Linked DNA regions of Homo sapiens: region 2 is linked to region 1. Evidence: fine-mapped expression QTL. A gene starts in region 1. The other region holds a variant in brackets. All regions are shown on one strand. Distances are from middle to middle.

Region 1 (4,392 bases):
AGAAGCAGCTTCCTTGTACTGTCACTCCTGGACCCCTGACCTCTGTTCCCACTACCAGGCCGCTTTGTCCACTTCAAGTCTTCTTTAATTTTTCCCTTCCTCCATCACCACTTGCCATATTCTTCAACCCCTGGGCCTCATTCACTCTTGGTACCAACTTACAGATAACCAGATTTACAAAGAGCAGCCTGTAGAAGTTCAGATGCGCAGAGGCTCAGAAAGCTGAGCACATGGGAATAGTAATCAGGTGGGTAGGTGGGGCATGGGGAAACAGGTGAGCTTCATCTTAGGGAAGTCATTGAAGCCTGGAAGTGTTAGGGAGGAGGCCTGGAATCATTAGAAAAGGTATTGGTTTGTTTAGGGTTTGAGGCTCTGGATCCTTTTCCTGAAGCCCACAGTTTGCCCAACTGTGCATGAGAGGAAGGACAGGGGTTGGGGAAGAGAACCCCTAATGCTATGCACACCTTCCTTCTTCCAGATCAGTGAGATAGGGCTGGAGGACAGTCTGTTTTTTGCTATAGTGTAGTTACCATGAGCCATTCTGGACAGGTCTTTAGAAAAGGGAATTCTCCTACCCAGTCAAATGGATGTCTAATAATTTCCTGGGGGTAAGCGTGACAAAGTTTTAAGTAGAGACATTTGGGGATGAGAAAGCCTCCTTAAGGAAGTAGTGGAACCTCCAACACCCTGAGGAGAAGGGAAAGAGCTTCGGGAAGGGGAGCTGATTCTCTGAGGCAGCGTTCCCAGGACTGGTGGGAAGGAGTGGTGACCCGCTCGGGCTCGGCGTGGACCCGGAGCGCGCCTGGCGCTGTCCGTGGTGCTGAGAGGTGGGGAGGCCAGCGTGGCGGCGGCGCTGGGCGGAATGTGGGCGAGACATCTCCGCAAGGCTTGGCGGTCCTTCCCCACGGCCCTCATCCTCTCATTGCCACCAGGCCTCCTCCCACAGCTGTTCCTGAATCCGCTGCATTGGCCTCTAAAACCAAAAATCAGGGAGAGGGGGCGACAGACTAGGAGTTTGCGCTCTCTTCCCCATGCGCTCTGCGCAGGAGTTCTCGAGTGTGCGCAGTCTGGCACGTGAGTCAGCGCGGGGTCTACGCGGATTGGTGCGGGGGAAGGGGAGAAGGATGGTCCCATTCCCCCTCCATCCTGCTTTCCCTCAGCGGTCCCCTTATTGGAAACCGGATCACAGCACGAGGAAGCCCTGGCTCGTCTCCTGGCCCAGCCTTCTCCCTGGAGCCAAGACCCCGATACCCGCAGCCCTGGTCAACTCTTTTTCTGGCCTTTCTTGCTTCTCCTGTGGCCACATAGGCCAGTTTTACCTCTCTCTGTTCATTTGTCTTTCTGACCTCTTCCCAAATCCCCAATTTTCACCTGAACCCACTTCTCGTGAGTCCAGACCCCATATGCCCAGCCTATCTGAAGCCTATGCCTCTTTCCGCTAGACGCTGTCTACCTTTTTCTCTTCTCACGTCCTTAAGCACATTCTTTTACTTCCAAGTTTCCTAGCCTTGAGGCCCCCTGCAGACCCCCACTTCTCAGGATCGCTTTCTTGGCCCTGCCCGCACCCCCCAGGGTTCCTCCTGACCGTGGGCACTAGTGTCGCTGCAGCCCCCCGGGCAGCTGTTCAGCAGCAGGAAGCAGACAAGCAGCTGGAGCCCCTCGGAGCTCCCAGGCCACAGTGGGTGCTGTATCCTCCCAGGCTCGGCGCGCTCACTCCCCGGCCAAGTCTCAGTGAAGGTAGCGGCCACGGCCGAGGGGCTGAGCGGGGCTGCAGCTTCCCACCAGCCCGCGACTCCGAATCTGTTTAACCCTCCTCGGCAGTTCAGCCAATCGTGAGCGGGCCCTGCCCCTGCGGTCGCCTCCCCAGCTCCTTCCCCTACCGCCTCCCCACCCTCATCTCTTGGAATTCCTGACCCGGCTCCTTTCGGGCATTAGCTGGGTCCCAAGAACCACCGCCTGTACTCCCAGTCCTAAGGCTGCAGAAACGGATGGCACGTAAGATACGGGTGCAAGTTGTACCTACTCAGGTTTGTTGTGAGAATCAAATATGAACAGCGATGAAACAGTAGGCACTCAAGGAATTTAGTTTATTTTATTATCCTTGACACTCTTTACTCTGGCCCACTTAAAACCCTTTAGAAATCATATAGGTTCGATCTGCTATATATATATATATAATATTATATATTATATATTATATATGGCACATCCATCCACTTTACTCCACATCCACTGCCATCGCCTTGGTCCAAACCACTGCACACTGTACTTTTTTTTTTTTTTTTTTTTGAGACAGTCTTGCAATTTCAGATCACCACAACCTCCGCTCGACCTCTACTCAACCTCAGGCTCCAGAGTAGCTGGGACTACAGGTGCACACTACCATGCCCAGCCAATTTTATTTATTTATTTATTTATTTTTGTAGAGACAGGGTTTTGCCATGTTTCCCAGGCTGATCTCAAACTCCTAGGCTCAAGCAATCCTCCCACCTTGGCCCCCCAAAGTGTTGGCATTACTGGCATGAGCCACCATGCCAGGCCTTGGACACTGTACTCTTTTAAATTGAGTTGTTGTAGTAACTAACTAGCTAACTGACCTCTTGCTTTCACTCTTGTGTACTTACAAGCTAGTTTGTGAGCTTTCTAACTCTTAGACTGGCATTTAAATTTTTTTTCATTAAGCTTAAAACATTTATTAAACTGGGCATGGTGGCTCATGCTTGTAATCTCAGCACTTTGGGAGGTCGAGATAGTGGATTACTTAAACCTAAGGGTTTGTATAGTGAACATTTGGGGTTGATACATTACAAAGGATCTGAATTATATTATTATCTTTAAAGGGTAATAGTTTGAGTTTGTTCTGGCAGGCAATTAAATTTTTGGTAAAAAGTCTTGATCCTGTGGCAGTCTGGTTAGGGAAGGAGTACTTCATCCTATTCTCAATTCTAGCCTGTATCTCTTAGTCCTGGGATATGGTGCTTATGGCTAAGGTGTGGTCCTTTTTGGATTTCAACATAACCCAAAGTCATTTACCAAAACTCTCTATTTTACGGGTCCTGAACTCCAAACTCAGTCACCCTAACACTGTGACAGCTGCCAAAATCTCTGTTCAGATATTTGACTTTTTCACTAGGTTCCTTGAAATCTCACCCTGCGCAAGTGCCATTTAGAAGATAGCTAAGAATTGGAGGGGAGTTAGGATGCAGATTTTGAGTTCCTCTCTCTGTAATTTATTCATTTTCTAAATTTCTTCCTCAATTTCCAGATGCTCTGGCATCTCTGTACTCCAAAAGCTGTTTCCTTAGTAAGACTGCCAGTTGCTGACAGAGCTGTTTCCCTGTGTACTGCAGTGAACTCTGAAGTATCTTCAGAGGAAAAGCCTATACATGTATAAGTCACTTGGTGGACTTCCTTTTTTTGAGGACTATACTCCCTGTAGGTTTCTAACTCTTGATCAGTCTCCATGCTTTCATACAGTTATTTTTATATTTTGCCTAGAGTATATACCCAATGTTAGGAGGATCCGACACAAGTTTCTGTCTTGTCACGCCAAAAACTAGAGGTTTATCTGGTTGTCACTGATTATGTACTGGACATGCTATTTTAAAATAAATTTATAGCAATAATTTGAGGCCTAAGAGCAAATGAACGTGAACCTGCTTTGTGAAGTATAATGCTCCTGGAAAAAGGGAAATATTGGTCTTTGGGTCGGCTGAACAAAGGTGAGTGTGCTCCTCTCTGTATTTTAAGATTTTAAACCACCAGGAGAATGGCTATCAAAATGATAAATGTACAGGAGCATTGATGCTGCTCTTCTTTTTACTGTTCATTGGAAGGGATTCTAATGCTAAGAGTAATACCCTCAGAAGACTTAGCAGGTTTTCAGGCCTATTGAACCAGGGGTTCGTAGGAAGGAACTTTCTTTCCCAAGAAGAAAGAAAGACTACCATAAAGTGTAGCTGGGGAGAGTGGGCGAAGGAAGATTGTAATTCAGCTGTGGTCCTACTCTGTCTTACATTCATGTTACAAATGATGTCCGGAAGGAGAAGGAGATCAGAAGCCTAGGCTCCATGTGTACCAAGGAGTTTTACTATTTCAATCCCCACCCCAAATGTCCTCTCTGTTCTGGCTTTACATATTTTAATTCAGAAGCTCTGGCTGAGGCCCACTGTCTTACTTGCAGACAAGCCTGCTTAAAGAATTTTCATGAAAACTCACTTTAAAAAATCCAGTAGCAAGTTGTCCTAAAACTGCCTCTCTGCAGGGTAATGGGGCTGGGAGAGGAGGAAGGCCTCAATCTGTGACAAAGTTTTGCTCAGAGAAGGAAACAGTTCAAAGAAGCTCTAAAATGGGAGGAAAATCGGATTTGGAATTTGTGTGTATATGTGCCAG
Region 2 (4,392 bases), 330 kb after region 1:
AGTGTGGCCAACACAGAACCGGGCAGAGATAAGAGACAGACAGACAGACAGAATCTTTTTTGGGCTGAGTCCCTGGGAACCTTTAAGTTCCTGGTCCCTGCAGCTTGTCCTCCCTAGCTAAATTCCATTTTCGGTTTAGGCAAATTCTAGTTGAGTTGTTTGGCACAAGCAGCTGAAAAAATTCCAGATAAACACATTCCCTACAGAGCACCCCTCATCCATATAGCCTCTCTTTCCTCCTCTGGCTCCACTCTGGAAACTATAAATGTGATCTAAAACTTCCAGTCGCAACCTAAAACCATGGGACACCTTTCCACCTAGAGATTTGGTTAACTTTGAAAGATAGGCTTCAGAGGTCCCCTGAGAAGCTGCCTTTCTCCTCTGTGCTGCATCCAGCCACAGAGTTGAGTCAGAGGCAGGGAAACAGCATGATTCTGCTGTTTTACAGCCTGAAAGAAACATCTGGACGGGAATGCACTTTTTTCTTTTTCAGAATACAAGAAACCTCCAAAAATCAAGCCGAATGTTTTTGAGAAACATTTTGTGGTGGTAAACGGATTGGGTGCAAAGACACCTCCGTCTTTGATTCCCATAGTCCCTGATTTATTTTGGCATGGGAGTGTCTGTAGTGCTACCATTCAGCCACATGTTAATTTTTTGTCTACGCAAGGTTGTAAACTGCATATGGTTTATTTCAATTAGCTTAATTGTTTTTGGTATTTAATAGCTAATTGTCTTAATTAGCTTCCAAAGCACAACAATGCTAAGAACGGTAATGACTACATCTTATCCATATGGTTACAGAAGACAGATGACTCAATTTCCCATCCTCAGGCTGTGTGAGTCTCAGGAGGACAGGGCAGATGTGCAAGGAAGAAGATGGATGTCCTCAAGAGAGCTGGCCCGGCCTTGAATGCAAAAACCTGAATATTAAGAATAAATGAGGAGGTGATGGACAGGGAAATAAAGCAGGAGAATGAAGGATTTATGGAGGACTCAAGTCATCTATTTCCTTAATGTAGATACCATGCAGTGATGCTGGGTGAATAATAATAAGAATAACAACAAATTTCACAGTGCCAGCAGGCTATATTGGCTCTGATCTGAAGAGGCAATGTTTGAAGACCAAATTGTGGGACATTGAGAGTGAGAAATGCCCTGTGGTGCAATCAGTCTTAGGAATAGCTGGTACCAGTCAAAGCCTGGGTGACATTTCTCTGGCAAATCTGGATCAGAAGTAGTTCATACCTAGTGCCTGGCATATATTAGGAGCTTAATATATGCTTTAATCAGCATCTGCCAGGAAATCCTGGGGGCTCAACCTTCAAAATCTATCTCTAACCTGACACTTAGCATCTCCTTTACTGCTGCATCCTGGTCTGATCCACCACTGTCTTTCACCTGGCTGCCTCTCCCAGCCTCCCAACTGGTCTCTTTCCATCTACCCTCAGCCCCTCTGTGTTTACTCTCAAAGCATAGCTAAAGGAATCCTTTAAAAGCAGAAATCATATCATATCCCTGCTCTTCTCAGAACCCTCCAATGGCTCCCATCTCACTTGGGATAAAAGCCAGAGTCCTTGCAATGACCAATAAAGTCCTTCTCCATCCTGTTGTGCCTTTCTGAGTTCATCTCCCACCATTCCCCAGCCCCCTCCGCTGTGCCACACTTAATTCCTTCACCTGTTCATGCTTTAGGGCTGTACTGCTTGAGTCATTTCCACTAGCCACATGCAGCTACTTAACATCAACTAAAATTAAAAGTTGAGGCTGGGCGTGGTGGCTCACCTCTGTAATCCCAGGTGAAGGAAAGAGATTTAATTGACTCACAGTTCCGTGTGGCTGGGGAGGCCTCAGGAAACTTACAATCATGGTGGAAGGTGAAGGAGAAGCAAGCACCTTCTTTACATGGCGTCAGGAAAAAGAGAGTGAGGGGGCACCTGCTAAACACTTTTAAACCATCAGATCTCGTGAGAACTCACTCA[A/C]TCACTATCACGAGAACAGCGTGGGGGAAACCACCCCCATGATCCGATCACCTCCCACCAGGTCCCTCTCTTGACACATGGGGATTACAATTCTAGATGAGATTTAGGTGGGGACACAGAGCCAAACCATATCAGCAAGACCCTGTCTCTACAAAAAATTTAAAAATTAGCTGAGTGTGGTGGTGTGTGCCTGTGGTCCTAGCTACTGTGAGTCAATTAAACCTCTTTTCCTCATAAAGGTAGGAGGAGAGACTGAGGTGGGAGAATCACTTGAGCCCAGTAATTTGAGGCTGCATGAGCCATGATTGTGCCACTGCATTCTAGCATTTCTCAAAAGAAAGGAAGAAGGAAGGAAAGAAAGAAAGAAAGAAAGAAAGAAAGAAAGAAAGAAAGAAAGAAAAAAGTTGAGTCCCTTAGTTGCACTAGCCACGTTTCAAGTGCTCAATTGCCACAGGTGGCCTGTAGCTATTGTATTGCACAGCACAGGTAGAAAGCATCATTCCAGAAAGTTCCATTGCACAGTGCTGCCTTAAGGACTTTAAACTGTCTGGAGAGCTCTTTCCAAAGATATCCACTTGGCAAACTCCCTCAACTCCTGAATCTTTGCTCATATGTCACTATTTCCATGAGGCCCACACTGACCACTCAATTTAAAATCTCAACCCACAGCCCAGCTCCCCACTGCAAGCATTCCTGCTCCCTTGCTCTGCTCACTTTTTTTCTATAGCACTTAACACCTTATAGTGTCTTATACAATATAATCATTTATCACACTCCCTGGTTACTATCAGGCTCCCCCCATGAAAATGTATTCTCCACTAACTGAGGGTTTTTTGGGTCAATTTTGTCCACTGTTGTATCCCCAGCACCTAGAAGAGTTCCTGGCACAGAGTGAGCACTCACCAAATATTGTCAGAAGAGTTAGTTAATGGATCAACACATTTATTGGGCACCTGCTATCTTCCAAGCTCTTTGCTAGACACTGGGTATTGCAGAAAATCAGGAGGGCAAGAGAGACCTCAGGGTACACAGGAGGATCTTTTATTAAGTGTCCTCAGACCCAGTGGACTCAACGTCCAAAGACTGGACCCTGAACAAAGACAAGGTTTTGCTTATATACCCACTCCTAAGTGGCACGAACACGAATGTACAGAGGCAAGACAAAGGCCATTAATCAAACTAAGGCAGGCTCATAACTCAGGTTCAGTATACTCCTTACTATGCAGCCCAGATGGTCATTATCTGGTTAGTTCAAAGGAGTTTCACAAAGACTCATCTTGCAACCCCCACCATGGTGTCTAGCTGGCTGCAAGCTAGACCTGCTCAGGCATGTCTGGTAACCTTTGCTATACTGCTTAGGTGAAGAAGCAGGAACCTACAATCATTAACTATGGGAAAAACAGGAACTCATAAAATTTACAGAGCAAGGAGCAAGGTATAGTCACATAGTAGAGGGGATGGGATTCGAGGGGAAGTTTACTTACACTAAAGGGGAGCTAGGAAAACTTATCTCTTCACATCGTTATGTTGAGGGAGAACTAGGAGAGTCTTCAGAGCACATTCCTTTGAGCTCTGGCCCTTAGATAACATTATCAAAACGTTGCCTGTTACTGCCTTTGAAATGAGTCAGCCTAATACAGGCAGCTTGTTTTTTCTCTTTTTTAATTTCTATTTTTCTTTCTTTCTTTAATTTTTCCCACCTCACGGGGATTCACAGAAAAATTATAGAGAAATTGTTCCCACCTTTATGGAGTTTCTATTCTAGGGGGAGAAACAAGTAAACAAGTACCTCATGCAAATTCTGGAAAGTCCTACGAAAGAAACAAATAAGGAGCAGAAGTAGAGAAGTGTGTGTGTGTGTGTGTGTGTGTGTGGAGTGAGGGTGCTGGGTAGGGAGGCTGTGATGAAGTCAGGCAAGCTTTGTAAGGAAGTACAAGTATTGAAGAGTATTCCAGAGGAAATACTCTCTGTGTGGAGACTCTGATGCCAGCAGGAATGCATGCATGGGTGAGGGAATGCTGCTCAGAGGTGACTGGTGAATCAGAATCATCATAGATCAGTCACCAAGTGGGGGCTGCCTTCTGTGGCAGTGCTACCTGAACTGTAGTCTTGAACCAGAAGCATTGCATCATCTGGGATCTTGTTAGAAATGCAAATTCATAAGCCAATTCTAGCCCTGAGAATCTGTGTTTTCCCAAGCCCTCCAGGTAATTCTGATGTGCCCTGTTCTAGAGCACTGTATCCCTCTATAGAATATAGGCACATGGTGAGTACCCCATAACCATTGCTTGAAGGAATGAATGAATGAATAAAGGAAAGGACAAATATAAACCCCCTCCCTGCCACTCTCCCCCATGCCTGTTCTCCTTCATGTTCTCATACTTTGGTGGAAGCTCAGATGATCATTAGC

What was found.
Region 2: its variant is fine-mapped to the expression of RESP18 in putamen (GTEx, PIP above 0.99).

The regions. Positions count from the first base shown.
Region 1 is chr2:219,330,939-219,335,330 of GRCh38, forward strand. RESP18 (regulated endocrine specific protein 18) reads right to left here and starts at 1,806. Exons shown (of 6, transcript NM_001441699.1): 1 at 1,586-1,806. The coding sequence starts at 1,691. RefSeq lists an enhancer at 3,785-4,392.
Region 2 is chr2:219,658,231-219,662,622 of GRCh38, forward strand. No RefSeq gene overlaps it. Among named protein-coding and RNA genes, the nearest start is that of SLC4A3, 33 kb to the left of the region's middle. RefSeq lists a cis regulatory region at 3,797-3,964. The variant A/C (reference allele first, on the strand shown) is at 1,983.